2 linked regions of the Homo sapiens genome follow. The protein of the gene in region 1 interacts with the protein of each later gene in a pairwise test. Each region holds a gene or a part of one and is shown in the gene's direction. Other genes may lie near its edges. The genes, in order: ASAH1 and NR5A1.

Evidence for each region.
Region 2: the proteins of ASAH1 (region 1) and NR5A1 interact in binary tests that used the Homo sapiens proteins (3 or more experiments, as listed by UniProt).

Annotation. Positions count from the first base shown.
Region 1 is NC_000008.11:18,075,966-18,091,563, reverse strand, and holds the start of ASAH1 (acid ceramidase isoform a preproprotein), read left to right. Parts: upstream 1-7,456; 5' UTR 7,457-7,505; coding exon 7,506-7,583; exon of another isoform or gene 7,584-7,647; intron 7,648-8,367; exon of another isoform or gene 8,368-8,442; intron 8,443-15,598. UniProt on the Homo sapiens protein: Lysosomal ceramidase that hydrolyzes sphingolipid ceramides into sphingosine and free fatty acids at acidic pH.
Region 2 is NC_000009.12:124,503,571-124,518,663, reverse strand, and holds the start of NR5A1 (steroidogenic factor 1), read left to right. Parts: upstream 1-11,264; 5' UTR 11,265-11,415; intron 11,416-15,093. UniProt on the Homo sapiens protein: Transcriptional activator. Essential for sexual differentiation and formation of the primary steroidogenic tissues. Binds to the Ad4 site found in the promoter region of steroidogenic P450 genes such as CYP11A, CYP11B and CYP21B.

The DNA of each region.
Region 1 (15,598 bases):
TATATTCTTTTTCGGTTGCAAACTCCCTGAGATCTGGAATTTGTATTTCACTGCATGTGTATCTTCCATAGCACCTAGTAATCTGCTCTTCATTTAATGGTCATTTAGTACTTTCTATACACACATTATTACTATAATTGTTATTGTTGGCTTCTGTTGTCATTTCAGGGTGACTGTCATACTCCTCACCTTTCTGAGCTGGGAAACAGTTGAGAAATATACACAGGCGTTAGAAATATACACATATTAGATTCTGCTTTCTTGCTCATTAAGCTGAAATAGAGAAAACAATTTTGACCTGAGGCCAAAATGGAACTTCAACACCTTCTACTTTGGAATGAGCTTGTGTACTCAGTCTTTAGGCAAATGCAAATGACTTTTCAGGGGCACAGCCAATTTCTAACAGGAGGGGAGTGAGCTGAGGGCAGGGTGAGGATGGAGGCGCAGGGACCGGATGTGCAGGAGGTGCTTATAGGCGCTATTCCTTGACTGCCTTCTCTCTACATCTCTCAGAGCTCTCATTTTAGAGTGCTTTCTTCCAAATCTTCACAGCCATTACGTTATAACGTCATGATTTTAAAGTCTGTTGGTGACGTGCCACTTTGGGAAGATGTGGTCAAAGGCAGCAACTACTTTCACGTCCACTGTTGTCATTCAAGGCTTGCTGCAGTAGAATTACCAGTGTGGGCAGGCATATCTACTACTGTGGGGAGGCAGATCTGAATGAAAGCGCCAGAAGAGAGGCCAGGCCACGCACGTTCTGTGACCTTTTCAACTATTTACTGATTAGATACATCATACATCTCTCCTTCCCTAGGGAGACATGAATGGAGGAGACGGCAGAGAAAGGTGGACATTTTCTTCCAACAACATCTGATGCTAGATCCAGGTTTGGTGACACCTGAATCTTATGCAATTTAAGTGGTCCTCCTTAAGGAAAAGAATACAAAATTACAAGCATAAAATTTAGTAAAAGGTTGGGAAGGGGCATGAGCAAGTGAAGGTACTAAAACTTAAAGTTCATAGATTTGTTGTACATCCTTCTCAACAAAGGAGAAATGTCTATTTTCATGTGTGTATCAGTTAGGATGCTCTCAGATACAATAATTTAACTTGTAAGCAAACCAACTTGTCCAAGATTCAATAACAGAGTAGTGGCTGATGTAAATCAAGAGTCCAGTTGTTGGACAGGATCTGTGGTTGGTTGATCTAGCATCTTGACAATGTCATCAATGACCCAGTTTCTTTCCATCTTTCTACTGTGTAGTCCACAGTATCAATTTCATCTTAGGTGGCTCCCTTCAGGTTTATAGCATGCATGCCAGCAGCAATGGGGATTCCTAGCTTCCTCTTTCATATTAGAAGGGAGAAGACAAGGCCAAGCATGGTGGCTCACGCCTGTAACCCCAGCACTTTGGGAGGCTGAGGCGGGTGGATCACCTGAGGTCAGGAGTTCGAGACCAGCCTGGCTGACATGGTGAAACCTCGTCTCTACTAAAAATACAAAAAATTAGCTGGGCATGGTGGTGGGCGCCTGTAATCCCAGCTACTTGGGAGGCTGAGGCAGGAAAATTGCTTGAATCCGGGAGGCAGAGGTTGCAGTGAGCCAAGATCGGGCCACCTCACTCCAACTTGGGTGACAGAGCTAGACTCCATCTCAAAAAAAAAAAAAAAAGAATAGCATTACTGATTCCCAAATAGATGATGCTGAAGTTGTTTATACAATTGACATTCAGAAATATATTCCATGCTATCAGTTTTTTAGTTTTTATAATTCTTCAGGTGAAGTAAATAAGCAGGCACTGAGGAAAATATTATCAAATTCACAAAAAATGTGGTAGGTTGTTACAAATTCCATCGTCATTCAGATCAGATCATGACATTTAGAGAGAGGCTGCTTCACAAAAACTTGCAGGAGCATTTTTCAAACCAAGACCTGGTTTTTCTGCTATGAACACCAAGTATAATAACAGAAAGCCGCTCTACTCATCGACTGGAACATGCCTTATATAAACCTCGAAAAGGACTTTTTCACAGGGTACCTTCAGTGGTTGCCAATCTGGGCATGTCTGAACAACTAGGTTATAAAACTGTATCAGGTTCCTGTATGTCCACTGGTTTTAGCCGAGCAGTACAAACACACAGCTCTAAATTTTTTGAAGAAGATGGATCCTTAAAGGAGGTACATAAGATAAATGAAATGTATGCTTCATTGTAAGAGAAATTAAAGAGTATATGCAAAAAAGTGGAAGACAGTGAACAAGCAGTAGATAAACTAGTAAAGGATGTAAACAGATTAAAACGAGAAATTGAAAAAAGGAGATGAGCCCAGATTCCAGCAGAACGAGAGAAGAGCATCCAAAAAAGACCCTCAGGAGAACATTTTTCTTTGTCAAACATTATGGACCTTTTTTCCAGATTCTGAATTCTTCATGCATGTGTTATGTCTTTAAAAAAACAGACATGTTTCTAAAGGTAGCTCTAACAACCACCACCATCTCGATGTAGTAGACAATCTGACCTTAATGGTAGAAAACACTGACATTCCTGAAGCTAGTCCAGCTAGTACACCACAAATGGTTAAGCATAAAACCTTAGACTTAGCTGACAGATGGCAGTTCAAGAGATGACGGCGGACGGATCACGAGGTCAGGAGATCGAGACCATCCTGGCTAACACAGTGAAACCCCATCTCTAATACAAAAAAATTGGCTGGGCGCGGTGGCTCACGACTATAATCCCAGCACTTTGGGAGGCCAAGGTGGGCGGATCAGGAGGTCAGGAGACAGAGACCATCCTGGCTAACATGGTGAAACCCTGTCTCTATTAAAATACAAAAAATTAGCCCGGCGTGGTGGCAGGTGCCTGTAGTCCCAGCTGCTTGGGAGGCTGAGGCAGGAGAATGGTGTGAACCCAGAAGGCGGAGCTTGCAGTGAGCTGAGATCCTGCCACTGCACTCCAGCCTGGGCTACAGAGGAATACTTCGACTCAGGAGAAAAAAAAAAAAAAAAAAGAGTGTTCACGGCTGTTAGACACACAAGACAAACCATCTAAAACAGATACTGATAGTAGTAACCAATAAAAAAGCATCCAAAATGAGCAGCCCAGAAACAGATGAAGAGATTGAAAAGATGAAGGTTTTGGTGAATATTCACGGTCACCTACATTTTGATCCTTTTAACCTTAAAAGGAGATTTTTTTAATTTGGCTGATGGGTAAAGTCAAACATTTCCATTGTTTTTACTAGGTTGAGCTACTTGCAGTAATACAGGTAAGTTCATTTGTTTTTACTATATTCACCTCTTTGCAGTAATCCACAGATAAGTCTTAGTGCATTTATTTTACAAAGTACTTTTTCAAACATCAGATCCTTTTATTTCCAAACCTTTTTTCGCCTTTCAATAAGTTGTTGAGGGAAAGGCTTACACACATTCTTTAGAATTGGAAAAGTGAGGCCAGGCACAGTGGCTCACAGCTGTAATCCCAGCACTTAGGGAAGACAAGGCAGGAATGATTGAGGCCAGGAGTTAGAGACCAGCCTGGGCAACACAGTGAGACCCATCTCTATTAAAAAAAAAAAAAAAGTATTAGAAAAGCTAGAATAGCCTTATTTTCACAATGTGGAAAGAAATTTATATGAAATTTATCTGAGTCATTAAAATTATCCTTAGGTGATAATTTTTTAGAAGTACATTACAGCTAGTGTTGCCAGATAAAATGCTGGATCTCACGCAGTACCTTTGCAAAACATGATCTAAAATTTAAATTTGTCCTACATTTGTACTTGCTAAATCTGGCAGCCTTAATTATTACACAACTATAACGCAACACAAACAATAATCTCTCCCCTAGTTTAGAGTCCTTTGCACGAAATTTAGCAAATCCTTAATTTTGAGTACAGTACAAGCCTGGTAATCCAGTGTGTTTGGGATAGGCTGGTGGAACTCAGAACTGATACATATATACATACATGTCTATCACATTCACTGTCTATTAGGTGTAAATCATCTTTTTATGTAAAAGACACTACTGGTTTGAGGATAGAGTTGTCTAGGAATGTTTTGTCCTGCTGTGACAGCATCACTATGCATCCCAGTGTAACATTCCTACAAAGGGAAGATCTCTTAACCAGGCATACTTACATTTGCTAGTTAGAAAACCATTCTGAGCAGTTTTAACTCCATTCAGTTGAATGGTGTACTACATTGTATGAGCTATTTGTGGACCAGATATAAATGACTATCACCCAGAACCACTTTCATTCAACATATGTAAAATGTGATGAGTGTTAACATTTTAAATAAGCGATCTGCTTAATGAACACTGATTGGTATGAAGGGGAAGTGTCATTCTTTACCTCACTCCTGAAACACTTTTCTATCCAAAGGTTGGTTTGAGTCAGTATTGGCGTCATACAACCACTTACTATAAAATAAGTTTACTGGTGGTAATGTGATGGAATTTATTCCGGATATCTGATGTTATAAACTTTAGGGTCCCTGAAATATGCAGGATCCTTGTATGTAACTGGCATAAACCCTGTAAAGAGATAATTAAAGTTCTTGACAAAGCATAATGAGCAAAATTTCAGCTAGCTCAATACAGTTGTTGAGGTGCTCTTTCTTACCCATTGTTTGAGCTCTCTTAATTGCTTTTGTGATTTGTTTCTTCCCACAAAGACCTGTAAAATAAAAAGCTTCCTTATTCATAAAAAAGTCAATATTTAAAGTTAAAAAAATGTTTATTTCTCAAACTGAAACATTATTTCTCTATCTCTTGACCTTTTAGTACACGTTTTTGTATATTCGGTTTTACTAAATCAAGTCAAACCTGTTCCAGGTAATGTGATGTTATACATGATAGGTTTCATTTAGGGTGGGGTGGCTAAGTTGCAACCCTTTTAAATCAAGGCTCCACCTCAGGAACCTAGGAATGTTAGGTAGGAGATGAGGAAGTCCACAGCTTGCCAAGAACTTCAGCTATTCCATAAACAATCTGATTACATATCCCGACTCTTGCACACGAAACAGGTTATCCAAGTCTTAAACTTGATGCTTTTGTGCAGTATGAACCACCCTTTCCGTGGACATAATCATGCATTTGCACATTTAAATACCATTTTCTATGAACAGATCAGTATGCCAAAAACCACTGCAAAGTCTCCTACACACACCTTGCCTTGACTTTCTGTACATTTCTAGTATTAAAGAATGGTGTAGGCAAAATAAAGATATATGTGTAAGAAAAAAAAGACATGCATGAAATGGTTTAATTTTAGGGAACTAGATTTATATTTTATCTGAAAAGAGTATTAATAATATATAATAGACCTTTGAAAGTTAGACGCATAGTTCTGCGAAAGTGGTGCCTAAGAATAGTATGTCAATTGACAAATTTTTTCCATAAAGAATCTGATTTTGCTAGACTACCTAATCACCAATTAACATCCTCCAGTAGGGAAAAAAATATGCTTGGTGACATGTTTAAATCGCTCTCAAGAGTACTGAAGATGAATGATCTTCCAATCAAGTAGCTATTTGATTTAGTAATAACAACTAAAAGATGGGAATCCTCTTCTTCGCACACTCATTTTAAGCTCCAAGGTAATTCCATAGATTCAACATTTAACACGTATATTCAATATTACACATTTTTTTTCCGGAGTGAAATGGCTCTGAATGCCTTACAGAATTTGCCCTGCTCTCCTTAACTAAATACTTTGTCTATTAATACTTCTTTCTTCTTTTCCCCTTGTTCTTTCTGTGCCAGACCCACACACGTCTGCTGTAATTGAACATGCCAGGCACATTCTCCATTTAAAGCCTTTTAACAGCTGCTGTCTCTGCCTAGAATACTCTTACTTGGGCACACACAAAACTAGCTTCCTGGTCTCCCTCAACTGTCTGCTCAAACTTCACCTCCTTAATCATGTCTATCTGTCCCTCTTATTTAAAATTGTAACTCTACCACTTCTGATCTCCACACTTGATGCCCCTGGCCTCCCTTTTCCTCCACTGCATTTGTCACTAACATCCCGTATAATTTTCTTAGGTATTATGTTTATTGCCCATTTCTCACCGAGAACATACGCCTCAGGGTGGAAGAAGTTTGTCTTTTTGTTGTTGTTCACTGCTTATCCCCAGTGTCAGGAGACATGCTTGGCACATTGTAGGTCCGCAGTAAATATTTTTTGAATTAATAAAGAATATTTCTACCATCTGCTAGCTTACTGTTCATGCAGGAGCTCAAATGTGCTTTAAGCATGTGATATGTTTCAAAAGTCAAACTTCATCCTTAGGGAGAACACTGTCATCTTCTCCTCCTTTAAAAAAAAAAAATAGGAAAAAAAGCAAAACAAAACATCACCTTCTCATTTCCCCACCTCCAACAAAAAGAGTGTTGAGTTTTCTAAAGAAATAATACAAATGGATAAAACTGCAATTTGTTGTCCTTTCTCTCACATGCAAAAAGAAAAGAAAAAATACTGCCGAGATTTCGGCAGCGTGCTGAGCTTCATCAAAGCATTAAAACAATGCTGCTTGAGACGTCAGAGGCTCATCCAGGAAGTGCAACCCAGAGGGCAGGATTTCCTGCTGGACTTTGAAATCCAACCCGGTCACCTACCCGCGCGACTGTGTCCACGGATGGCACGAAAGCCAAGCGAGTCCCCCTGCCGAGCTACTCGCGTCCGCCTCCTCCCAAGCTGAGCTCTGCTCCGCCCACCTGAGTCCTTCGCCAGTTAGGAGGAAACACAGCCGCTTAATGAACTGCTGCATCGGGCTGGGAGAGAAAGCTCGCGGGTCCCACCGGGCCTCCTACCCAAGTCTCAGCGCGCTTTTCACCGAGGCCTCAATTCTGGGATTTGGCAGCTTTGCTGTGAAAGCCCAAGTGGGTAACCAACAGCTTGGAGGACCCGAGTGGATTCGATTCTCTCTCACTCCTCGGCCACTCAACTGCTCCTTGTCCCTGACTCCGCGGTGGGGATGAATAACTCAACTCATTTCGGGCCGCTTTTCTCAGAGGGCAAAGATGGGTCAGGGTGGGATGTTACATTAGTGTTGAGACTCTTTGGATCCGTTTCGTGGGTACCGAGGACGCCTGGGTACGCGGGACAGGCTGCACCCGCCTGCTAGAGGCGCCCCATCGAGGCGCCACGGGTGAAGCTCCCGGCCCCACCTACGGGGCGGGGCTCCGGCTCGGTCCGACTATTGCCCGCGGTGGGGGAGGGGGATGGATCACGCCACGCGCCAAAGGCGATCGCGACTCTCCTTCTGCAGGTAGCCTGGAAGGCTCTCTCTCTTTCTCTACGCCACCCTTTTCGTGGCACTGAAAAGCCCCGTCCTCTCCTCCCAGTCCCGCCTCCTCCGAGCGTTCCCCCTACTGCCTGGAATGGTGCGGTCCCAGGTCGCGGGTCACGCGGCGGAGGGGGCGTGGCCTGCCCCCGGCCCAGCCGGCTCTTCTTTGCCTCTGCTGGAGTCCGGGGAGTGGCGTTGGCTGCTAGAGCGATGCCGGGCCGGAGTTGCGTCGCCTTAGTCCTCCTGGCTGCCGCCGTCAGCTGTGCCGTCGCGCAGCACGCGCCGCCGGTGAGTGAGCTTGAGCCGAGGCGCAGAGAGGGGCGTGCAGGTGCGGGCGCGGATGGAGGCGCAGGTGTGGCGGCGCGAGCGGGTACAAGGAACACCTCGTGCTGGGCAGCTTCTTTACGGGGGTCTGTGGTTTCGTGCACAGGGGTGTGGGTGCAGAGCGGGCTGGCGAACCCCGTCCTCGGTAGATTCGGTGCTACCTGCAACTAGAACTCCTTTAAAGGAAATCCTAGTCTCTGCAGGATACCTGGGTGTGATTCGCACATTCTTAGATTTGAGTGAGTGTACTTGAATAACCAGTTCCAGGCCCTTGCATTTTGAAGTGTTTAAATAAAATGTTCCGGTGGACCTGTGTGCATTACTCAATCAAGGACAGACTGCCTGATGGTCAGGTGCTTTCTCCCGAAGAAGTTCAGGAGTTCAGCCCAGGATACTGCAGGGCCGTGGGAAACGCTGAGTGGTCCCAAGCTTGGGCGGTGCGAGCAGCCCAGAGCAGGCCCCAAAGGGCCCCCTGTGGCCTTTTGCACCCAAGTCATGGGATCGCCTGTCCCGTGGCTCTTTCCCACGAGCAAGTCACAGGGCTACGGACTTCCTAACTGCAAGAGACAGTGAGGGACGAGCGTGACTCTTTCATTTTACAGAAGAGGAAGTAGACCTAGAGTGAGAAAATATTTAGCCAGAGGTTACACTGTTGTTTACTGAACATGCGTAACGTCCGAGCCTCTTGACGCCCAGTACTCTTTCATAATTCATTTCTTTATAAAGCAATCAGACTGCGTTTGTCTTTGCCAACAGAATCGGATAAGTAGGAACCTGGCGCATCTGGCCTGAGGCTAGATGGTGATGGTCTTGAATAGTTTAGGTAGGTTATTGAAAGTGGAAGCAAGATGTGCATTGTCTTCTTTTATACCTGTAAGGAGAAATTCTTTAAAATCATGGTGGGATATGATTTAGCCATTAAAATTGATATAATGTTCAGCAGATAAAAGTAGAATCCAGAATAGTATATACAGTTTTTCCTGTAATAGGAAAATACACAGAACATGTATGTGGACACGATTAAAGGCCTTAAAATAAAATTGCTCCATTGTGGGTAGGGAATTAATTTGCTTGACGGTAGTTGGTTTTATGGGAATTGGGAGAGACTTTGATACTTTGATACTGTCAGGGCCCTTCATTGAAAGACCACCAGGAACACACCATAAGCTGAACAAATTGGGTTTAGTGTTCTTTGAGGCAAAGGAGACCACACACCATGAGCGACGGACGGTAGGTTATAGAAAAAAACCCATTACAGAATTTGAACTTCGGTTGCATGATTTGGGGTAAGACTGAGGAACCGGGCTTTGCTGTAGATAGAATGCTGTTAGAAGGTGGGGCAATTCTGACTGAGTAAAGAAGGAACAGCCATTCTGTTTAGCACGAGAAGGGGATGTTTGGTGTTTTGTGCGTTGCAGGTGCCCTTGTTTTTGTCTGTTCTTAGAGAAAATCTTCAAGTGGCATTGCTTTGTCTTGGTGTGTCATGTCTCAGAATAATCTTATCCGACGTAGGTATCTGTGGGATTGTTGATGTCCAGGAGGAAAACAGAGCTTACCTGGCTGTGAGTGTCAGATCGGCTTGTAATAATATTGAGAGATAGCTGTGGGACTCAGAGCAGTTTCAGGTGTTGGAGGCTGTTTTTTCTTCTTTCTCAATAGCTTTATTTATTCTAGCAAAAGTATTTTGATAGCTATTTTCAGAAGAAGAATTAACAACCTCTCAATGGATATAATAGTTCTTATCTAGAACAGCGATTATCAAAGTCTAGTCTGGCCACTGGTGTCACTTTGGGAAGCTGTTTTCACAGGTTTTCAATGAAACTGGAAAAATAAGAATGCAAAACTAAAATTATTAATTTAGAATGTTAATCTTTACTCTGATTGTATGGACTTCAAGTTTTCATTGTTGCAAACGTGTTCTTAAAAATAACGGCAGAGGTAGATGTTATGTGCATGGAATTTGTTTTGTTTTAACATCTCCATTTGGCAGAATAAAAATTTGGACCCTCCTGTGCCAAGGCCTCATTAATTTTTTTTTACTGGCCTGGAAAATCCTGGGATCCATGCACTGAAGGACCTTTAGAACCTTACAGAAGTTTAGTGACTTCATTCTCTGAGAAGAATAAGCAGTTTTTCAACTGGAGTCATTATATGATAAACTATAGCCTCATGGTAACAAAAGATATTTCAAAAGTACTTTCAATAAATATGAATAATGAGAAGCAGCTTTAAATTGGAAACAAGTCATTTGATTTAGAACATCTGTAAGGATTTTTTGTGTGTTTGTTTTTGAGGCTTTTCACAATATTCCTATGTGAAGGTCCTCCTGAGTTATTCTTCATTATTGAATTTTTTAGGAGTCTATTAAGAGATGATGGTGAAGACAGTGGCACAAGAAATGTCTGGAGAGATAGCGCCAGATGACATCATCCAGGGTTCTGTAGACTCTTATTAAGGATTCAGAAATTTATCCTAAAAAATGGGAGGATCTGGAACCAGCCAATGGGAGGCCATTAGATGGTTTTAGACAAGATAACATTTTCACTTTAAAAAGATGAGTCTGGATTGGAGGTCAGCAAGGGTAGATATGAGGAGACTAGTCCAGAAAAGAAAACAGGGTGCGTTGAAGGATGGTGGCGCCAGGGGTGAGGGAGAGAAGTAGATGTTCTAGAAAAAAATCAGGAGGGCGAATGAGCTGAAGGAATCGTTGGGTGAGGATGAGGGAGTGAGGTGTCAGCGTGACCTGCACATTGCTGAAGTGCTTCGCTGGGCGAATGGTGGCATCCGTTCCAGGAAACATGGGGAGGGGAAAGCTTGGGGGCTAAAGAATGAGGATCGTTTTCATTTGGGGTGTATGTTAAATTTCAGGTGGCAGAGAGGCATCCAGCAGGCCACTCGGACTGGCACTCAGAAGAGAGACACTGAGAGTCACTGGCATAATGATATTATATTTGAAGCCCTTGGAGCAGATGAACTTACCTAGAAATAGGATAGAGAAAGAGAAGAAAAGAGAACTAGGCAAAGGCTAAGTAACTTGCACATGTATGTGTCAAGAAGAGGAGAAATTGCCAAAGTTAAAACAGGACAGGCCGGGCGCGGTGGCTCATGCCTGTAATCCCAGCACTTTGGGAGGCCAAGGTGGGCAGATCACGTGAGGTCAGGAGTTTGAGACTAGCCTGGCCAACATGGAGAAACCCTGTCTCTACTAAAAATACAAAAATTAGCTGGGCATAGTGGCTCACGCCTGTAGTCCCAGCTACTCAGGAGGCTGAGGCGGGAGAATTGCTTGAACCTGGGAGGGAGAGGTTGCAGTGAGCCAAGATCCTGCCATTGCACTCCAGCCTGGACAATGAGCGAAACTTCGTCACAGAAAACAAAAACAAAAAAATAGGAGAGTAAGTGGAACAGGAAGCTCAGGGAAGAGACTGGGACAGGTTAACTATGTTGAATATTATTGAGATGTCAGTGGTATTATGATGTTGGGCAACTGGAGGTCATTGGTCACCTCGACTGGAGCAGTGTTGGGGGCAGAAAACAGCTTGCGGTAGGCTAAGTGTGATTGGCAGGAAAGGAACTAGAGGGGAGAGATGGCTGCTCTGCGTAATAAATCTGACCCACTTCATAAGATGTGCGAAGATGAAACGTAATGGCTTAGTAATTAATTGCCAAAGTAAACTTGTAAACTCATTTTTATGCATCAGCTTCTCATACTAGTTAACAGCGTATGTCAACATTGTTGACATTAGCTATTGAATCAGCTTTAGCAATGATTTTCACGCAGTTGCCAGAAATCTCATAGACCCCATCTGGCCTAGGAATTTATTGCACTTCATCTGCTTTTCCCTACTTCTCCCAAAGAGGGAACACACAGGTGTAATCCATTCACTTATTCAACAAATACTGCTTGCCTACTATGTGCCAGACTCCTAAACGCTGGGAATGCGTCAGCCAATGAGATAGATGAGGTCCTTCCTCTCATGGAGGGTTTATTCACATTCCTTTGACCTAAATATCAGTAGCTTAATAGGATGCCATCCCATCAAAGCCCAGAAGACAAGTGAAAACATTTTCAAGCTCATGTGAATTCTTGTACACGTAGGAAACATGCCTCTTTGTATTCAGTGTTTCTGCTGAGTTGTACATAAGAGGACATTATAGGAAAAACTTGTCTGCAAAATAGTTGTTGATGAATTCAAGAATTGAATGAATGAAAAATTGTCTGGCTAGAGTTGTTTGGCTTCTGGTGGGTATGAAAACTGACATGAGGTATGTAATTTTAGATTATCCTTCATTGTCTCTTTCTGAGTATTTCAATAAGACAAGCACACAAGGGCTTTCTGGACTTTTAAAATTCACTATTAGAAGCATACATTATTTCATTGAGGGTCTCCTAATTCTTTCGGGCTCAAATATTTTAAGGAGCTGTACAAGTTATGCCATTTTTTAAGGGTATGGCGCTTTCATTGAGACCTTAATGTTCTCTTTATATTTTTGTGTTTTTTTTAGAATGTTGTGTTCAGTAGCTCTGTAATTAATTTCTCTTAATGAATGGGGAGGACATTCAAAGAGGCTTAAGTTTCTATCAAATAACCAGAAAAATTAGAGAATTTTCTGACCCAAACAGTCTTTTAAAAGCACTTTCCAGAGAGTTTTTTGTTTTTTTTTTTTTTCTGAGATGGAGTCTTGCTCTGTCTCCCAGGCTGGAGTGCAGTCACACTATCTCGTCTCACTGCAACTTCCACCTCCCGGCTTCAGGCAATTCTCCTACCTCAGCCTTCCGAGTACCTAGGATTACAGGCACATGCCACCCAGCTAATTTTTGCATTGTTAGTAGTAACGGGGATTTCGCCATGTTGGCCAGGCTGGTCTTGAAGTCCTGACCTCAGGTGATCCACCCACCTCAGCCTCCCAAGGTGCTGGAATTACAGGCATGAGCCACCATGCCTGGCCCAGAGAGTTTCAAATGCATTGAAATATCAGATTTTTACCACTTATCTTCACTCTTAGGAGACCACTGAGGGGCAGGGAGAAAGGTAGGGAAGGGCAGGGAGAGAGAGAGAAAGAGAGGTACTGTGGGGAGAGGGTTAGAGAGAATTGATTCTAAGTTGGATTTTGTTTCCTGTGATAGGGTGTACATAGTATACCATCCAGACCACATAATCTCTCTTCTTATCATCTGTTTCTAATCTTTACCTATCATCTATTTAAGTTTTTACCTGCCTTAATAGAGTTGTCTGTTATTAAACTGTTTATAAACTTGGGGATAGTAAGGAACTTTAAATAACATTAAGTAAGTTCATTATAATTCTGTTTTAGGGCTACTCGTGGGTTTTGAAGCTGTGTCTCCCTGTAGAATTCTTTTTTGAGGGGGAGGAAGTAGCTCTTTTTTCCACCCTACCCCTAAAACTAACCTTTTTGCATAAACGACTTAGGCGTTCATGCCATGTGAGCCCCTGAAATACTGTAGTCTCATAGCTGCCAACTTTCTTATTTTCTGTCACACTTATCCTATTTCCTTGCAGCCAGGTTCTATGCCAATTTCACGTTTGTTTATTGCTACCAAGAGTCGTTATCAACCTCAGACTCACTCCACATGTATTGTTGCTAGCTTGCTCTTTAGTTCTTACCTCTGGGGCAGGTCACATTCTCTCCTAATACTAGACAGAGCATTTTCAACTTTGCTCACAGTTGTCTAGTAAGAAATGTGCCTGTAATTTGATGTTTATTTTGGCTTTGGAACCCAGGGCGTGCAAATGTCATTATTAGGAAGGGATAGGAGTCATTACGTTTCACTTAATTTGCCGAGTTGATTCTAGTGATCACCAGAAGCCCTGAACTACGCGCAGATTATTCTGTTAGGAATTAAATTGAGGCATTGGTTTTATTATCTCTGTGGGAAGCTGTTTGATAGAACAGGGAAAGCCATTGACTCTGATTCTGTCACCAGCTGTGTAACTTTCTACAAGTCACTAATGGAGCAGGGTCTTAAGTCCACAACATGATCATAAAATTAAGCACTTGGGTTAAGTACCCATCACAGTATTCCCAACTCATAGGAAAACAATGGTCAGATAAACAAGAAAATGTAAAGCGGAGTATCTCCTCACAGCAGAACTTATTTACAAATTTTACAAAGTAAAATTAAGTTGCAACCCCTATAAGTCTCTAAGTAGCTCATTTATTAGCAAAATAAGGAAAGCCATTTACCAATGGTGGATTACCTAAATTGTATTCGATTGTAGTAGCAGAAGTATTGTGTCCAGGGAAAATGAAATTATTTTACATGTCATTGAGAACCCTTGTCCTGGACTTTGGGAAGAACATCAATATCAATTAAAGAACAAAGCATGTGATTTTTGAGTGATTTTTCTTGACTGTCAACATACCGATAACTGATCAGTTGTTGATATTTATTAGATGATCATTGCCAAGTTTGAAGTGACTGAAGAGTTAGCCTCTGAATCATCTGTATAAAACAACTACAGGCGAGGATGTTTTCGAAGAAGCTGAGAAAATAATGATTGAGTATAACCTGGAATGGAATCTGCTAAGATCTATAAAAATTGACAGTAGTAAAAATATTTGTGAGTAGAAAAAGGCGGAGTTGAGCAAATTCACAAAACTTGTGAACATGCGAGGTGTTTAAAGCTCATGGTTATTTATTATAGTATTCCTTTTCAGATATTTTGTGGAAAATATTGGAATCTCACATGTGTTATTGAACCGGCAATATAAACCATGAGCTTCATTTGCTCTTGTGGATATAACCGTCATCATTTCTGTGAATTATCAGAAATAGAGGCCGGATATCCTGATGTCTCTTGTGACAGAGCCATTAGATAGCTTGCTAGCTGTAAAGTTTTGCAGTCTTTGAGTTCACAGTTGAGACTGAAGTTTTTCTAAACGAGCTGCCCCCAGCCACTATTACTGAACACGAATGGCTTTGGAAATTAGCTTTTGCTACAGACTTGATATTGTTTCTTAATGAATTCAACGCAAAATTACCAGACAAAGCCAGACATATGTGAGAAACTTACAGTGTGGTAAGGCAAATTTGACAGCTAATGTTTGAATCACAGGTAATGTCAACCTACTTTATATATTCCCCATGTTATCAAAAGTTAAAACAAGGTGCTAGACCTCCATTCTTACACAGCTGTCCAGCAGATACATTTTCTGTGCTCAAGCTACAGTTCCAGGAGTTTTCTGAGCTCAAGCTACAGTTCCAGGAGTTTTCTGAGCTCAAGCTACAGTTCCAAGAGTTTTCTGAGCTCAAGCTACAGTTCCAAGAGTTTTCTTACCTACTCTACTTTATCTTATTTTGGATTTGTACTTTTTTAAAACAATTATTTTACTTTCACAGAACTGGTTCTCCAGAGGAAAGGAGATAAAGACACTTGATATGTTGAATGAGTAACAAAAGAATCATAAATCTGTGTGGACTTTTTTTGATAAGTTTAGGAGAAGGTTCCATTTTGCCACTAAGCTTGGACAACTTCCCCTAAAAGAGTCTGTTCATTCCTTGTCTCAGGCAGTGACGTCAGTGTTGGGGGCCGTCCTCACCTCAAGGAGCGCAGAGTCTGGTATTGACAAGGAACGCAAACAGATGATTATAAAGCAGTGTCATAAACATGTTGATGAGAGTGTGCACAAATGCTGTGGGAGGAAAGGAGGGTATGAATATTTTCATATGGAAGATAGATGAAGACTTCACAAGAAAGAAAATGCTTGAACTGAATCTTGGAAGTTAGAACCAGCAGTTCACCAGGTGGGGAAAAGGCATTCTAGCAAGAGGGAATAGCACAGACACAGGCATGGAAGGGTGAGAGATGATAGGAAGTGCCTGCGTATGGCTATAAATACTAAGGGGAGTGTCAGGAGATGAGGCTGGGATGGTAAGTTACCATGGAAAGATGATGAAGGGCCCTGTGCTGTGTGCCCTGAAAATCTGGTTTGGGAGGCAAATCCCAGGACAGGTT
Region 2 (15,093 bases), on another chromosome or scaffold:
TCTGCCTTTGCAACTGATCATCCTCCCTTTCTCCTTGGCTTGAAGCATCTATGTCCAGTATCTGTGAAATGATGTTTTATCTGTGTGTCAGGATGAGAAACGGCAGTCATTCCACCAAGTGTTGGAAACTGGTTAGCCTGGAGACAAGGGTTTCTGGGGCCACAGCTCAGGGATGTGTATTTAATTACAGGATCCCCAGAAACTCCTCTCTAGGCTGCCACAGCAACATTTTTTCTGGGCTTGGGAGCCATACCTGAACTGTTTCCTCCAAGGCGGGAACTCCAGAGAGCCTGCCAAGTCTGGAGCAAGCTGGGGCTTCTGCTTTGGCCAGACCTGGGCCACCATGAGACTTGAAGGCTTCTAGCTGTCCTACGACACGAGCCACGGTGGCCCTGCCTCTCCCCGCTCATAGAAGCCTGGTCCCTCTGTCTAGCCCAGTTCCCATCTAGCATCCGTCTTCTGGGCCTGAAGCCCTAAATGGACCACAGCCTGCACAGGAATCAACTGTAGGCTCAAAGGGAGGCGGTGAGTAAGGTCAGAGCCTGCTCCAAGCCCAAGAACAAAAGTTGTGTTATGGGTGGAGGCTAGTCCCCCAGATCTAGCCCTGCCGTCTTTGCCCTTTAATGACCATTGTTTTCTTTCTCTAAAATGTCTTGTAATAGGTGATAATGTTGTTGATTCAAATTTCCATGAAAAAGAAAAAAAAAACTACCTCTTAAGCGACATCCTGGTCGATTCCTCTCTGAGGAATCCTGTGGGAAAAGAATACTGTAGCTCCTGCTCTGTTTACATGTTTCTGTCGGGAAAGAAGCCCCGCCTGCCCTGGGGTGTTGGTGTTTTTGTCTGTGTTGCCATCCCAGGTCTGCCATAGGGGCTGGTGGCTGCATTGTGATGTCTGGGCTGTGTCTGGGGATTCCTTCCCACCTACCCAGCCAGGGACTAGTCACCCCCCTGAAGAGGCCTCCATTTCCTTCCTGTGCTCCAGGGCATAGGGAGCACCACTCCCACAGACACCACCTTTAAGGGCTCTAGTGGCACACACATCCACGAGCCTACCCCCAGGTTACCTGCCCTAGGTCCACCTCCACCCACAGTCCTGTGTGTAGGAATCGAGGAAACGGGATGTCCCTGAGCCCTTGTCTCCAAAGGGCCGGCCAAGGGCTGCCCGCCAGCCTGACTCCATCAACCCTCCATGACCAAATGATAGCTGGCGGGCTCTGCAGGCTACCCAGGCCCTCTGCTACCTCCCACCCTGCCAGCTGGCAAGGGATGGGCCCTGTTCTGTGAATTGACTACCTGTGGAAATGTGACCAATTAGTGTGAAATGCATGTTTAGCAAGTGTTAGGTACTGTATTTGAACCAATAAATGTGAATCCTTCTGCACATGGCATCTGTCTGTGAAGCTTGTCTGGGGTTCTGGGGAGGGATGATGGCGTGTCCTGAGGCGCCGGCTTGTGCCTTCAGACCTGTGTCTCTTGCTCATAGCTGACACCCACCTCAATTCTGTTGCTGAGGCTCTGGCAGAAGGTGGTGTCTCGGAACTGCCTGAATCAATGAACCAGCACTGACTGAAGTGCCCAACTTGTGTGCCAGGCACCATATTGAACTTCAAGGATTATTCTGTTTTATAAGTGAAGAAACTACAGTTGAGTGAGGTGAAAAGACTCTCCCAAGGTGAGTGGCACAACCAGAGAAGTGAGCCTAGTGGAGAGGCAGATACAGACTTTTGCAGTGCAGGGGGGATGAGGTTGTCATTAGGGATGTATGTGGGGTTGTAAGGGCCTGGAGAAGGAGTGGCTTGTTCTATGGAGGATAGTCAGGAAGAGCTTCACAGATGAGTGTTGTTGAAGGTGGCCCTTGAAGAAAGTCACGAGGCAAAGGGATCCACAGGTAGGCCAGGTAGAGGGATCCATGTCCAAAGGCCTGGCTGTGTATCAGAAAGATGGGAGTGTTCAGGTAAAACAAGGGACTGTCATGGCAAGAATGATGGCAGGTGGGAGGGATTAGCAAGAGTTGAGGCTGGAGAAGCAGTTGGGAGCCTTGGATGCCACATTCAAGAGTGTGGGGAAAGAAAGCTGTTTGCTGAGTCTTGGGCAAGAGAGCAGCATCATAGTGCATGAGAGGCCAATGGATGGCCTAGGATGCACTGTGCTCTAGCAAAGTAATACTGTCTTTCCAGAAAATAGGTGAGGTCTATTAATAGCTTTTCTAGAGCTGAAAAAATGGAGGCTCTAAGAGATCAAGGGATGTGGCCCAAATCACACAGGAGTGTTAAGTTTGTACTTGAACTCAGATCTGCCCAACTGTCCTGTAGGCCTGCTCATATGATCAGAGAAGTGGCAGAGTTTGGGTTGAGGGGTGTATGAAGACAGATGGGAGAGATGAAGGCTTCTCAGGCTGGGAAGATAAAGGCTGAGGAGGGTTTGATCAAAGTCTATTAATCCTCTTGTGTGAAATGAGGGAAGCCCAGCTGCCTTCCCATTCCTCAGCCTCCAGCACAAGAAACCAGAGAGCCCTTGAGTTTTGAAAGAGATGGGTTTAGAACAAAGCAAATGCTGCAGAACGAATTAATAGACTGTCTTCCTTGCCCCCACAAGAGGGAACAGATACACAGAGGTGCCGGGAGGAGAAGGGACGCATTGGCCCACCGCCTCGTGAGTCCAGGCGCCGTAATTGGTGCTTCACGCATGTCGTCTCAGTAATCTTCATAACAGCCTTGCAAGGGGTAGGTCTCAGCCCCATTTTTCTAATAAGCAAATTGAGGCTCAAGGAAGTTAAGCCTTTTGCTTCAGATGACACATTAGTCAGTGGCAGAATTGGCTTTTGAATCCAGGTCTATCTGATACTAAAGTTACAACTGGCTTCCTCCCTGCTCAGCCTTAGCAATTCAGTAGTGCTGAATGTGGATATCCAGAGTTTGTAGCAAAGCTCAGTAATGGCCTTTGGGTGAACCTTTTGCCATAGAAACAAAAAAATAAAAAACATTAATAAAGGATTAATTCTGTAAGAGGTGGATGAACAGACCCAACCAAAGTGAGCTGAAAAGCGGTGCTGCCCAGTCATGTGGAATACTGCAGGCGCTACATTGGTATGGCTTCCCAGAGCTCAGGAACCTCCCCCCCACCCCACCCCACCCCCAGAGATGGTTCCATGGAAGAAGCCTGAATTCTGTTGCCAAAAATATGGGAAGTGCTGCACTCGCTCTATCATCCTCATTGATTCTCAGCCCTTACTGGCATATTAAAGTCTCGAGAAGTCCCACCTGAAGAAAACTAATGTTGTTTAACCCAGGTTCTACCAAAAGCATTTGAGCATTGGACATTTTTGCCTCCTGTTAAAATTCTGTTGGGATAATATTCCATGGAATAAAAGGACACTGCTCTAAATACATAAATTGCTGCTTATGTGACACTGAGCTTTCAGTTTCCTGGGTGCCAGCCAATAATATGGAGGAATAATAAAGTAACATCTAGAAAACAAAGCAAAGCTCTGTGCTGAGTATTTTGTGTGCATTAGAGTACTACTGATTCCCCAGAGCAACCCGGTGAGGTTAATGCTATAATGATCCCATATTACAGATAAGAAAACAGAGGCCCAGAAAGGGTAAGTCATTTGCTTGAGGTTACATAACTGGCAAGATGTCAGGAATGAATATAAACCAGCATCGATTGAGCACCTACTATTCGGCAGGATCTGTGCTGTGATTCTTATCCTTGTGCAAACCCTCAGAGGTACGTAAGACCATCTGCATACCTGAAGAAACAGGGAAGGCTGGCTACTCCGAATTAAGTCAGAGTCTGAAGACAGAAGCCCCTGGAAATGATGGCAGGGGAAAGTGCTGGGATGAGGTTGAGTCTGACTACACAGAGCTCTTTCCAGGGGTCGTTTCCTTCAAGCAGTCTATGAGACAGCAGGCACGTCAACCAGAGATCTCACCACCTGAGTTCTCATTCCAGCTCTTGCCCTTCCTGGTTGTATGTGACCTTGACCCAGACAGATGCTTCTCTGATCCTCACTTTCCCTGTCAGACAAATGGAGGTGCTGGTACCTGTGTCCTGGGGGACAGGGGGCAGTGTTAAGGAAGATTGAGTGTGGCTGGCTTAAAGTTGGGTCTCAGTGAAGTCAATACATGAAAGGAGGCTAGGTACGGGGAGCTGTCGCCCCTACACCCCAAGAGCAGAAACTTAGCAGAGCCAGGAGCCTTGGCCTGGCTGCCCATCAGGGTTTTAGGTCCACAGTGGTAATCAGTCTCTCAGATCCTATGGCAAAAGTGCCCAACTGCCAGACCCGGGGCTCTTGGAGTCTTGTTCCCTTGGCAACAAGTCTCACCATGGAGACCACAGCCCCATCCTTGCCCTCCCTGCATGCTGCCTCTCCACAAACCCTTGTTCAACACCCAGTCCTAGGAGCAGTGTAGGTACTGAGGAGTGCTTCCAGGAGGCACTTCCTCAGGTGAGTTGGAGGCAAAAGGAACTCCCATTTTTTGAGTGTCCACTTTATGTGTGGCAAGGTCCATAGGCATCAGCTACATACGTGGTCTCGTTCAGGTTAAAAGCCACGTGCTCACCCTGTTTTCCGTAAGTGGAAACTGAGGCTCAGGGAGGCAACATGGACCAGCCCAAAGTCTCACGGCTAGTCGGTGTTGGAGCTGAGACCTGAATCCAGGGCTTCTGACTCAGGAACCCATGCTTTTTCTGCAACTCCCCATTCCCACCCATGTTACCAAGACAAAGCCTCCAGCCACAATCTGAGGAGGGCTGGGTACCCGGGCCTCTGCCAGCAGCACGAGCAGCCAGCCAGCAGCCCTCTGAGGTCTGGGCTGGGCCCAGCACCATTACAGGAGGAACTGTACTATTTTAAGCCAGGGCCAGAGGGCCCCTTGTGGGCACAGGGAGGGTAGCCTGGGGCCCTTGGCCAGCTTCCCGGAAGTCCCCATGGCCTCCCTTTTCTCCCGCTAGCAGGTTTGTGAGGCAGTGACTTCCCTACAAACAGGAAGGAGGCTCTCAGGCTGGGAGACCTCCAGCCCCAGCTTCCTCCCCATTGCTGCCACCCCCAGGCTTCTCCACTACATGGGGGAGCCCTCCAGCACCAGGCCCTATCAGTGTCCATCATCCAGGCTGACTCCTAGCAGTGGGTGGGAGGGGGCCTGAATTTGGGCTCCCTGGGCTGCCCCAGCTCACCCACTACAGTTCCAAGGTCTCTGCTTTCTGAAGCCCTTTGTCCCTCACCCAAGCCCGAGTTCTCATAGACATTCCCACTCAGCTGGCCACTGTGAGCTAGAAAGAAAAGTGTCAGTATCCTTAGATGTGGCCCCATTCAAGGACCCCAGAGAGAGAAAAGAAAAACAGACTAGGCGGCTGAAAATAGCAGAGAGAAACAAATTAGAACATGATTAAGATACCGACAGTGACAGATTCATCGTGACAGAGATGAAAGCAGAGACAAGCGAAGAGACACCAGAGATGGCTGTGCAGGGCTGGAGCCGAGAGCAGGGGGTGGTGCAGCATGATGGCTTCTGACCACCCTCCAAGCACAGGCCCTGTCTCGGGGCTGTGGGGGCGCCCACCGGCTGCGTGGCTGAAGTGGAATGTGGGGAGCAAGGCTGGGTCACCCCTTGAGGGCCAAGCGTGTGCACCGAGAGATAAGCTACCCCAGGCTGGGGGCCCCAGCTGCACTGCACGCTCCAGGAGCCTGGTGGAGAGGCCAGACCCAAGGCTGGAGCCCAGCTCTGCCAGATGCCACCTTCTGCACCTCCTACGGGGGCTCCCCCAGGCCTCATGTTCTAAGGGTCCCAGGTCCTCTGCCCAGCCCTTGGGGCAGCAGGTTCTGGGTGCATCCAGTTCACAGAAGAGCAGTGTGGGCCCTAGGAATAGTACCAGCCACAAAGAGGCTCCTATCTTGCTTCTCCAGTGCGGGCTGCAGTCCTGGGTCAGGAGAGAGGTCGGGGGGGTAGGGGCCCTAAGCTGAACACGCAGAGCAGGGGCTCTAGCAGGCTGTGGGGTGCTGAGGAGAGCTGTGGGGGCGCAGCTCTTCACTCTGTGAGCTGTCCCCATGTGGCACTGTGCACTCATGTGCCTGAGTGTGTGTCCATGTGCTTTCTCGAATGTGCAAAGATGTATGTGTCCACGTGTTGCCAGGAGCCCCAATCTGCCTCCACAAGTCCCTGCTCTCAGTCTAGAGAACTGGCCCCAGGGGCACCTGGCCTTTCCCATCCCCACGAGGTGGTCCAGCCCAGAGAGCCACCAGGCAGAGGGGGAAGAGCGAGCAGGTCTATTGCAGGCCCCTAGCCCCCCTCCCCACACTGCAGCTGAGGCTCCCGCTGGCCACGGCCTTGACCCAGCACTATGGACTTCTCTGACATTGGCATCGGATCTGAACATCTGGCAGCAGGCTGATAAGGGGTGCAGCGGAAACAGCCTCTGCTGCCGCCAGCAGGCCCGCCCCCTCCGCTGCCCTGCACGGGGTCTCCACATCCACCCTCCCTCCACCTCCAGCTCTCCAGGCCTCGGCCCTTCCCGCTTCTCGTTCTCTGCCTCAGTCTCTCTCTCTCCGTCTGAATCTCTCTCATCCCTACTCTCTCTCTCTTCCTCATTTCTTCTCGCTCTCATTTCTTCTCTCCCCAACCCTCACCACTCTGAATTTCTCTGTCATCCTCCCTCCCTCCGACTGCGTCTCCCCTTTCTCTCTGTGTTCATATTTTCTGCCCAAGCCTCTGCAGCTTCTCTCTCTTTTTCTGGCCACCTTTCCACTCTGCAGCCTGATGATTCTGTCCCTCTCTCTGTTTCAGTTTCTGGGCCTCTGGTTTGTTTGTTCCTTATCCCACCTCCAGGAAATGGGCCTGGCACTTTGGGAAAGTCCCCAGTTAGGAGAGAGACCCTGGGCTTTGTTTGCCTGGGGAGGGAGGTTGGGGGCGCCTGAGTCAGGACTACAGCCCTCCTTTGCTTTCCCCTCTGGGTAGGTCTAGTGGCCTGGGACCACCAGGGCTAGAGCTTGAAGGAAAGGACAGGCCACCCAGGGGCTCTGGCAGGGTGGAGAGGAGTCAGCCTGCAGGCCTGGGCTCTGGACTCCACTGCTGGGATTTGAACGCTGGTCCCATCACACCCTCGCCTGGTGACTTTGGGAAGATGCCTGGTCTCTCTAAGCCTGACTTTCCTCCTCTCTTAACTGCTGCTATCGGGGGTTGAGAGGGAATTACTACCTACCTCCCAGAATGCCGGAGAGGTTCGAGACTGACTGCAGGTGTGGAGTGGTTAGCTGGGGACCTGGCACATAGGGGGGCACTTCTGAGTTGGGGCCTTGCCATTCCCAGCACGCTGGTAACCCCTGGCTGCCCCTGTCCCCATAGAGCACCCACTTTGGCTGAGGGTGGGAGGGGGCAGCACAGAGGAAGGGGGTACCAGTGACTGTGGCCAGGGTTGGTTAGGGGATGAGGAGCACCCAGCCTTGAGTGACAACTGATGCCGTCAGAGGAGACAGGACCCATGGAGCAGGCAGCAGAGCTCTACCTACAAGTGCGGAGGAAAGTGGTCATTCAGCAAGTTCCAACGCTTGCTCCACGCAGGCTGCTGTGGACCCAGAGATAAATCAGGCCTTTCCTGGAGGCTTCCCCAGGCTGAGGTGAGGCGCTCATCACAGAAGGGCAAACGGTGTCCATGATGATGTTGCAATCTCATACTCAACAGGGAAAGGGCCTCTGAGGACAGATCATCCAGTCCTTCAGCTGGTTGTTTGTTTGTGTTTTGCTGACACTTATTGAGCACACATGACATACCAGCCAGCCACTGAATACATTACACGTATTGTCTCCTTTCATCCCCATTTTATAGAGAAGAGAGAAGGCCCAGAGAGGGGAAGTGACTGGTCCCAGGTCACACAGCTAGAAAGTGGTAGAACTGGGATTTAATCCAGAGACTCTGCCAGCAATTCTCCTTCTCAGGGCTCAAGGACTCACCAGGAGACTAGGACAAAGCCAGGCTGGTTCCTTCTATGGCGTCATGGTGTGGAGAGAGACCTGTTTGTCTTGTTTAAGAAGGCGGACAAAGCAGACCCCACTTCATAAGGTCGCCTATTAAATGAGGTGCAAAGATTCATGATTTTGTTATTGTTACATGTATGTGACATGTTAGTGGTGGGTATTTGCTGGGATATGTGTGTGTGTGTGTGTGTGTGTATATATATATATATATATATATATATATATATATATATTTTTTTTTTTTTTTTTTTTTTTTTTTTTTTTGAGACAGAGTCTTGCTCTGTTGCCAGCCTGGAGTGCAGTGGTGCAATCTTGGCTCACTGCAAGCTCCGCCTCCTGGGTTCACGCCATTCTCCTGCCTCAGCCTCTGGAGTAGCTGGGACTACAGGCGCCCGCCACCAGGCCCAGCTGATTTTTGTATTTTTAGTAGAGACGGGGTCTCACCGTGTTAGCCAGGATGGCCTCGATCTCCTGACCTCCTGATCCGCCCGCCTCGGCCTCCCAAAGTGCTGGAATTACAGGCGTGAGCCACTGCGCCTGGACTTGCTGGGATATTTCTTATTAAATTCAGAGGGTGAGTGATATTAGTCCAGAAACAAAATCATTGCATTAAAATAGGGACACTAGGCTAGGTGCGGTGGCTCACACCTGTAATCCCAGCACTTGGGGAGGCTGAGGTGGGTGGATCACCTGAGGTCAGGAGTTTGAGACCAGTGCGGCCAAAATGATGAAACCCTGTCTCTACTAAAAATACAAAAATTAGCCGGGTGCGGTGGCGGGTGCCTGTAATCCCAGCTACTTGGGAGGCTGAGACAGGAGAATTGCTTGAACCCAGGAGGCGGAGGTTGCAGTGAGCTGAAATTGTGCCACTGCACTCCAGCCTGGGCAACAAAGTGAGACTCCATCTCAAAAAAAAAAAAAAAAAAAAAAAATAGGGACACTAAGGCCAGGTGCTGTGGCTTACGCCTGTAATCTCAGCACTTTGGGAGGCCGAGGCGGCCGATTTCTTGAGCCCAGGAGTTCAAGACTAGCCTGGGCAGCATGGCGAAACCCCATCTCTACAAAAGAAAATACAAAACTTAGCCAGGTGTGGTGGCATGTGCCTGTAGTCTCAGCTATTCAGGAGACTGAGGGAGGAGGATTGCTTGAGCCCAGGAGGTCGAGGCTACAGTGAGCTATGATGGTACCACTGCACTCCAGTCTGAGTAACAGAGCAAGACCCTGTCTCAAAAGACATAAAACAAAATAGGGACACTAAAAAAAGAATATTAAAATAGGGAGACTAGTTAGGTTCAGCCATATGCAAGAGAAGTATATCTTGTAAGAACTTCTCTAGGTGAAAAAGACATAATTACAAGGTCATGCACATTGAGGAATAAGTTGTCTGTTACGTTGTAGGTGGAATATATTCGATCAGTTAGCTATGACTGTTGGTGAAATTATATTATAAAAATTATTATTATTGAATTAATGATTATTAATTATTAAAACCCTATTGCCCGGGCTAGAGTGCAGTGGCACAATCATAGCTCACTGCAGCTCCAACTCCTGGGTTCAAACCATCCTCCTGCCTCAGCCTCCCGAGTAGCCGGGACTACAGTCTATCAGTATTATTGTTGTATGTTCACACACAATTTTAAGTGGCATAATGAGGAAAACACACACTAGGTTTTATTTTATTTTATTTTATTTTATTTTATTTTATTTTATTTTATTTGAGACGGAGTCTCACTCTGTCGCCCAGGCTGGACTGCAGTAGCACAATCTTGGCTCACTGCAACCTCTGCCTCCCAGGTTCAAGCGATCCTCCTGCCTCAGCTTCCCAAGTAGCTGGGACTACAGGCACAAGCCACCACACCAGGTGAATTTTTCTATTTTTTAGTAGAGATGGCGTTTTGCCATGTTGGCCAGGCTTGTCTTGAACTTCTTGACCTCAGGTGATCCGCCCACCTTGGCCTCCCAAAGTGCTGGGATTACAGGCATGAGCCACAGTGACTGGCTGGAAAACACATAGGTTTTAAATATAGTTGGCGTTTCTACTTTTTCAGTGGCCTTCCATGAAAAAATATATATAGGGAGAGTTGGCTTCACTTCACTTATCCAGAAAAGTCCCTCTTGTTCCAGATAAGTGAGGTGTTGGGTGTGATTTATTTATTTCCTCCAATGAAGGGATATGTGGGAGGAGGGGTGGTTCTCAACAGTGACTGCCCCATAGTCACCCTGTGCCCCTCCCTGCTCTCCCAAGATGAAAGGCACGGAGGTAAATCCTCTGAGGACAGAGACTTTTCTTCTCTTTCCTATGGGATCCCTGGTGCCTGGAACAGTGCCTGACCCCTAAGTGTGCGCTCAGTAAATGTGAGACAAACAGAGGAACACACAAAAGATCCAGTCACCGTGGGAGCGGCACAACACCCTGCAACCCGGGCCCTACAGGAACAGGATATTTCAGAGCCCATCTGGGCCCAGAGATTGGATGGGGACGTCCCAGGTTGTCTAGGGAGGCCTAGCCTTCTAGATAAGGGCCCCTTCCTGCTACCCTGTCCTATCCTGGACTAGCTTCATACTTGGTTCAACCTGGGGCCACTATAGCCACCACTTGGCCTCAGAGGCAGTCTCAGCCCAGCCTCAGTTTTTCCAGCCATCGACTGGGAACATCAGCAGCCCACAGCAGATGAGGACATTCAGAGGCCACCGTGGCATGCACGCACCAGGTGTCCAGGCCGCTCACCTGCTCCCCTTCCGGCCCCCCTCTTCTTCCACCTGATGGAAGAGGAAAAAGAGGTGGAAGCAGCAGGCCGCCTAGTCAAGTCGCCATGGCCTTGCCTCCGCACTGGCCTGTCCTGACTCTACTCCAATGTCCGGGCTGGGCCAGACCATGCCAGGCCAGGCCCCAGGGAGGTAGCCATTCACAAGGAGAGAGGAGCAGGCGGCAGGCCGGGTGGGGGAGCAGCCCATAAATCAAGCCCCACTCCCACCCGGTTTCTAACAAGCGGGGCTGCCTACCCGCCTCTGTGGGGTCCCTGCCTCTGGGCTCCCACAGCGGGCCTGGAACAGCCAGCTGGCCAAGGCCTCTGCAGTGCCTTGGCCTCCGCCCCCACCCTCAGCCCCCAGATAGATAGGGGTATTTTTTTTCTTTTAGGAGAAGAAGAAAAAATAGACGTAAATGAAGAGAAACACCAACAAAGAAGGCGAGAGGCCTGCAGAGTCACGTGGGGGCAGAGACCAATTGGGCCTCCGGTGGCCCCCCCACCAGGGCGGGGAGGAGGAGGAGGACGGACGGACAGGGCCAGCCTGCTGTCCGGCTGCCGCCCGCCGTGGTGTGAGGGGGTTTCTGCGCACCCACAGTCGCCACCGTCCCACCTGGGCTGCCGGAGCCTCCCCCTGGACCCCTGGTGCCCACTGCCACCCTCATCCGGTGTGAGAGCGCTGCTTCCGCTTCGTAAGTGAGGGCCTTGGCCCAGGCCTCTAATGGCCAGCCTCCTTCTGCAGTGCCTCCCTGCAGCCTGGGCCGGCCACTGCCTGCTCCACTTAGTGACCGGTGCCCCCTGCTCTGGGCAGGGAAGGTGCCAGGGGTCTCCCAGACTCACCCTCCCACCATGCTACCCCCTCTTCTTCCCTGGGCTGCCGATGGGAGGAGCCAGGCCTGTGACCACAAGCCCCATGGAGGTCCGCTGGTGTCCCGCTGTCTCTGGCCAGGCATCCACCAGGCTGTGTGGGTCTGAGCCTAGAGGTCTGTGAGTGTGTCTGGAGGGCTCTGGGCCTGTCTTGGGGCTCTGTCCCCCACCTGAGTTTCTGTGTTGTCTCTGTGGCTCTCTCTGAGTCTTGCTGTGTATCCGTGTGTCTGTCTCCGGCATCCATCTGTCAGCCTGGGTTCTGCGGCCGGGCCAGGTCTAGGCTTCCCTCCCTGGGTGGGTGGATGAGGGGCTGGAACTCCCCAGGCGGTGGGCTGGAACCTGGAACCTGTGGGGGTGGGTGCCTCGGAGCCTGGAGTGCAGAGGAGCCATGGGCTTCCAGCCGGTGAGAGTAGAAACCCTTGGGGAGAGGGGATTGGAGATAGAGGGAGAAGGGCCTGAGCCCAGCCCCCACCCAACCCCGGCGGCTGGGGCCTGTGTGTCCAGCTCCAGGTTTCCAGGAGACCTCGGGTGAGCTCTACCTTAGAACAGCCAACTGGGGCACCCCAGCCCATCATCCACCAACCCCCTTCCCTCCTGCAGTCACTGTCTGAGGGCTCCATTGTGGTGGGGAGCTGTTCAGAGGCGGCAGTGACCCCCACCTCCAGCTCGGGCAGATGCTCTTGTTTCTCAGGGGTTTGGGGGTGCGGGGGGTACGATTAACAGGGTCTCTGGCTCTTTCTTCCCTCCTCATCCAAGATTCTTGCATGGAAACCGCAGTACCCCATCTGTAAAGCCAACATGTTCCACTTTATGCTCGGAGAAAACTGAGGCTCTCGTTTCAGAGAGGAGAAGTGACTTGCCCGAGCTTGCACAGCTAGTCTGCGGGTTCTGCTCCTTCTGTGGGTGAGCCAGCTGAGTGCGGTCTGCGCGGGGGGTTCTCTGGCCACAACTTGCAGGCCCCAGGCCCAGCTCCAACCGAAGCCCGAGGCCTCCAGGCGGGCGGGAGCCCAGATGGAGCCTTTTGGTGGGTTGCGCCGCTGTCAATGCAAAATTGCGGTATTTTCCTGCTTGAAGATCGCAGCTTTTTGGCCTCATGGTCCCCAAACTCTCTCTGACCCCAGGTGCCAGCGGGGGCGGAGGCAGGATGCAAGCAGGCCCCTTCCTTTCGGGTCCGTTTCTCCAGCTGAAAAACAGTGGCCCCGCGGATGGTCCCTAGCCCAGAGCAACTGCTTGGCCCATAGGCCCGGGAACCCCTTTGTCCCCAAGACCGCCCAGCGCTTTCTTCCTCGCCCCACCCCCCCGTGAGAGCTCCGAGGGGAGCAGCGGGGCCCTGCCTCCGGGCTCCTCTCCCAGCTCCTGCGCCCGTAGAGGCTTCGGGTCCCCCCAGGCCTCGGACATTTGTAAAATGGGATTTCCACGAGTCCCATTTCCAGCCCAGCGACCTGAGGCTAGCGAGCAGAAGGGGTTCGCCCCAGATCTCCCCAGAGGGGCGCCACTGAGCGCTTCCGCCAGGCCACACGCGTGCTTTGCCCCTACTGCTTGGGTTCATCCTCACGACCCACCCTTAGCGAGGAAGAGCGGTCATCTACCCACTTCACAGATGCGGCAACTGAAGACCCGAGACGGGGAGAGAGCTGCTACAGGCTCGAGTGAGGAGATGTGGTGGGCCCCATGGGAGAATCTGGCTTCCACCCGTGAATCCGAGCCTCGGCCACGGTCGCCACTCGCCCTTACCCACTTCCACGCTGTAGTGCGACCAGCCACCCGCGTGGCATTCGCCACGACCCAGCTGGGTTCACAGACAGGAGCTGCCTCCTCCCACTGCAGGCGGGTGACCCAAGGCCCCCACTGCCCTATACCTGCCCAGATCGCGGGGCACTCGGGCTCCGCAGCTCTCTGGCCGCGCTCGGGGTCCGGGGAGCCGGGCTGCGGCTGGGGGGCCTGGAGGATGAGGGCGAAGACTCGAGCTGGACTGCGGAGAGGGTGCCGGCGCGGGCCGGGCTTGGGGGGAGGACACGACCGGGCCTCCGCCCCCGGATACCGCACGCGCCGATATAGAGGGGCCGGCCCCCGGCCCCGGCGCGGCGGGTTGGCGCAGGGCGGGGTGGCGGCTGAGGGGCCCGGGTCCCAGGTGCGCCTCGGAGCGGCCCCGGCGGCGGTGCGGGGGGGAACAGGGAGGCAGGATGGGGGGCGGGGAGGCGGGAGGGGGGAGCCGAGGCCCCCGCGCCGCCAGCCCCGCGCCCCCGCCTCCCCGTCCCCGGCCCGAGCGGCCGTCATCGCGGGCGGGCGGCGCTGCGCCCGGGTGCGGCTCCTCGCCGGCGGCGGCGGCGCGGCCGAGAGGTGCGGGCTCCGCGCGGGCGGGACGCGGGGCGCTGCTCGCAGGAGCGACCAGGTGGGCGCCGGGCCGACCGCAGCCGCCGTCGCGCCCCCTCTCGCGTCCCGGGCCCTGGCTCTTCGCGCTTCCCTCCTCCGGACTTCGCCTCTCCGCCCGAGGTCGCTCCCTCGCCTCGGGCTCGGCTTCCCGGAGCCCGCCGACCCCCGCCCGAGGTCTCCCCGCCCGACGTCCCGGTGGCAGCGGCGGCTCGGGCTGCGCCTCCCGTTGCCGTCGCTGCTGCGGCTTTGTCTCCCCCGGGGAGGGGGTCCCGGCGGCTCTGCGTTTTCGGGCTCTCGGTCCCGGCGCCGTCGTTTTCCGCCTCCTGCGGCCCGGGCCCCCGTCTGGGTCCGACCCTGCGGGGCCTCGCCTTGGCGCTTGGGCTCCTGCCCGGCAGGTTTCCGCGCGTCCCCTGTCCCCGACCCTCGGGCTGGGCGCTTCCGCCTCCAGGTTTTCTCTCCGTGTTTCTGTAGCTCCCCGGCCTCGTCTCTCCGGGGCTCCTCTCGTCTCGGCGTCTCTGTCTGTCGTCTATCGTTGTGTCTCTGGCTCTGCGTCAGTCTCTCTTGGGTTTTCTCTTCGGGCCTCCGCTGTCTCTCCGAGTCTCTGATCCAATCCCCCACCCCTCGTTTCTCTCTCTCTCTCTCTCTCTCGTCTCTCTCTCTCTCTCTCTCTCTCTCTGTCTCCCTGTCTCTCTCCATCCCTCCCTGTGTCTCGTCCCCGCCGGGTTCTCTCTAGCTGGGCGTCTCAGTGTCTGTGTCTCTGGCACTCTCGGACTGGCCTCGTGTCTGCGCCCGGTGGCGTCGGTCGTTGTCTCTCGCCAGAGTTTCTTCCCATCTCTGGCTCCCCCGGACTCTGTCTCTGCCTCCTTCGTCTCTGTCGGGTTCCCAGAACACCCGGGCCGGGCGCCCCAGCGCTCCTGGGTCCCCTGGCGTCTTCCCCGCGGCTGAGCCCATCTCTTTTTCTCAGAATCGGGGTTTTGTTCTCAGACAAACGAATCCCAATCGAAGCGCATCGAACCCGAGGGCCCCAGATCGGGCGCGACGGGGTCCGCGCGGGAGGAGCCCCCCGGACGGGGCGGGAGCGTGGGGCCTGGCAGGGGAAGGCCGGGCGCGGGGACTGCACCGGACCCACC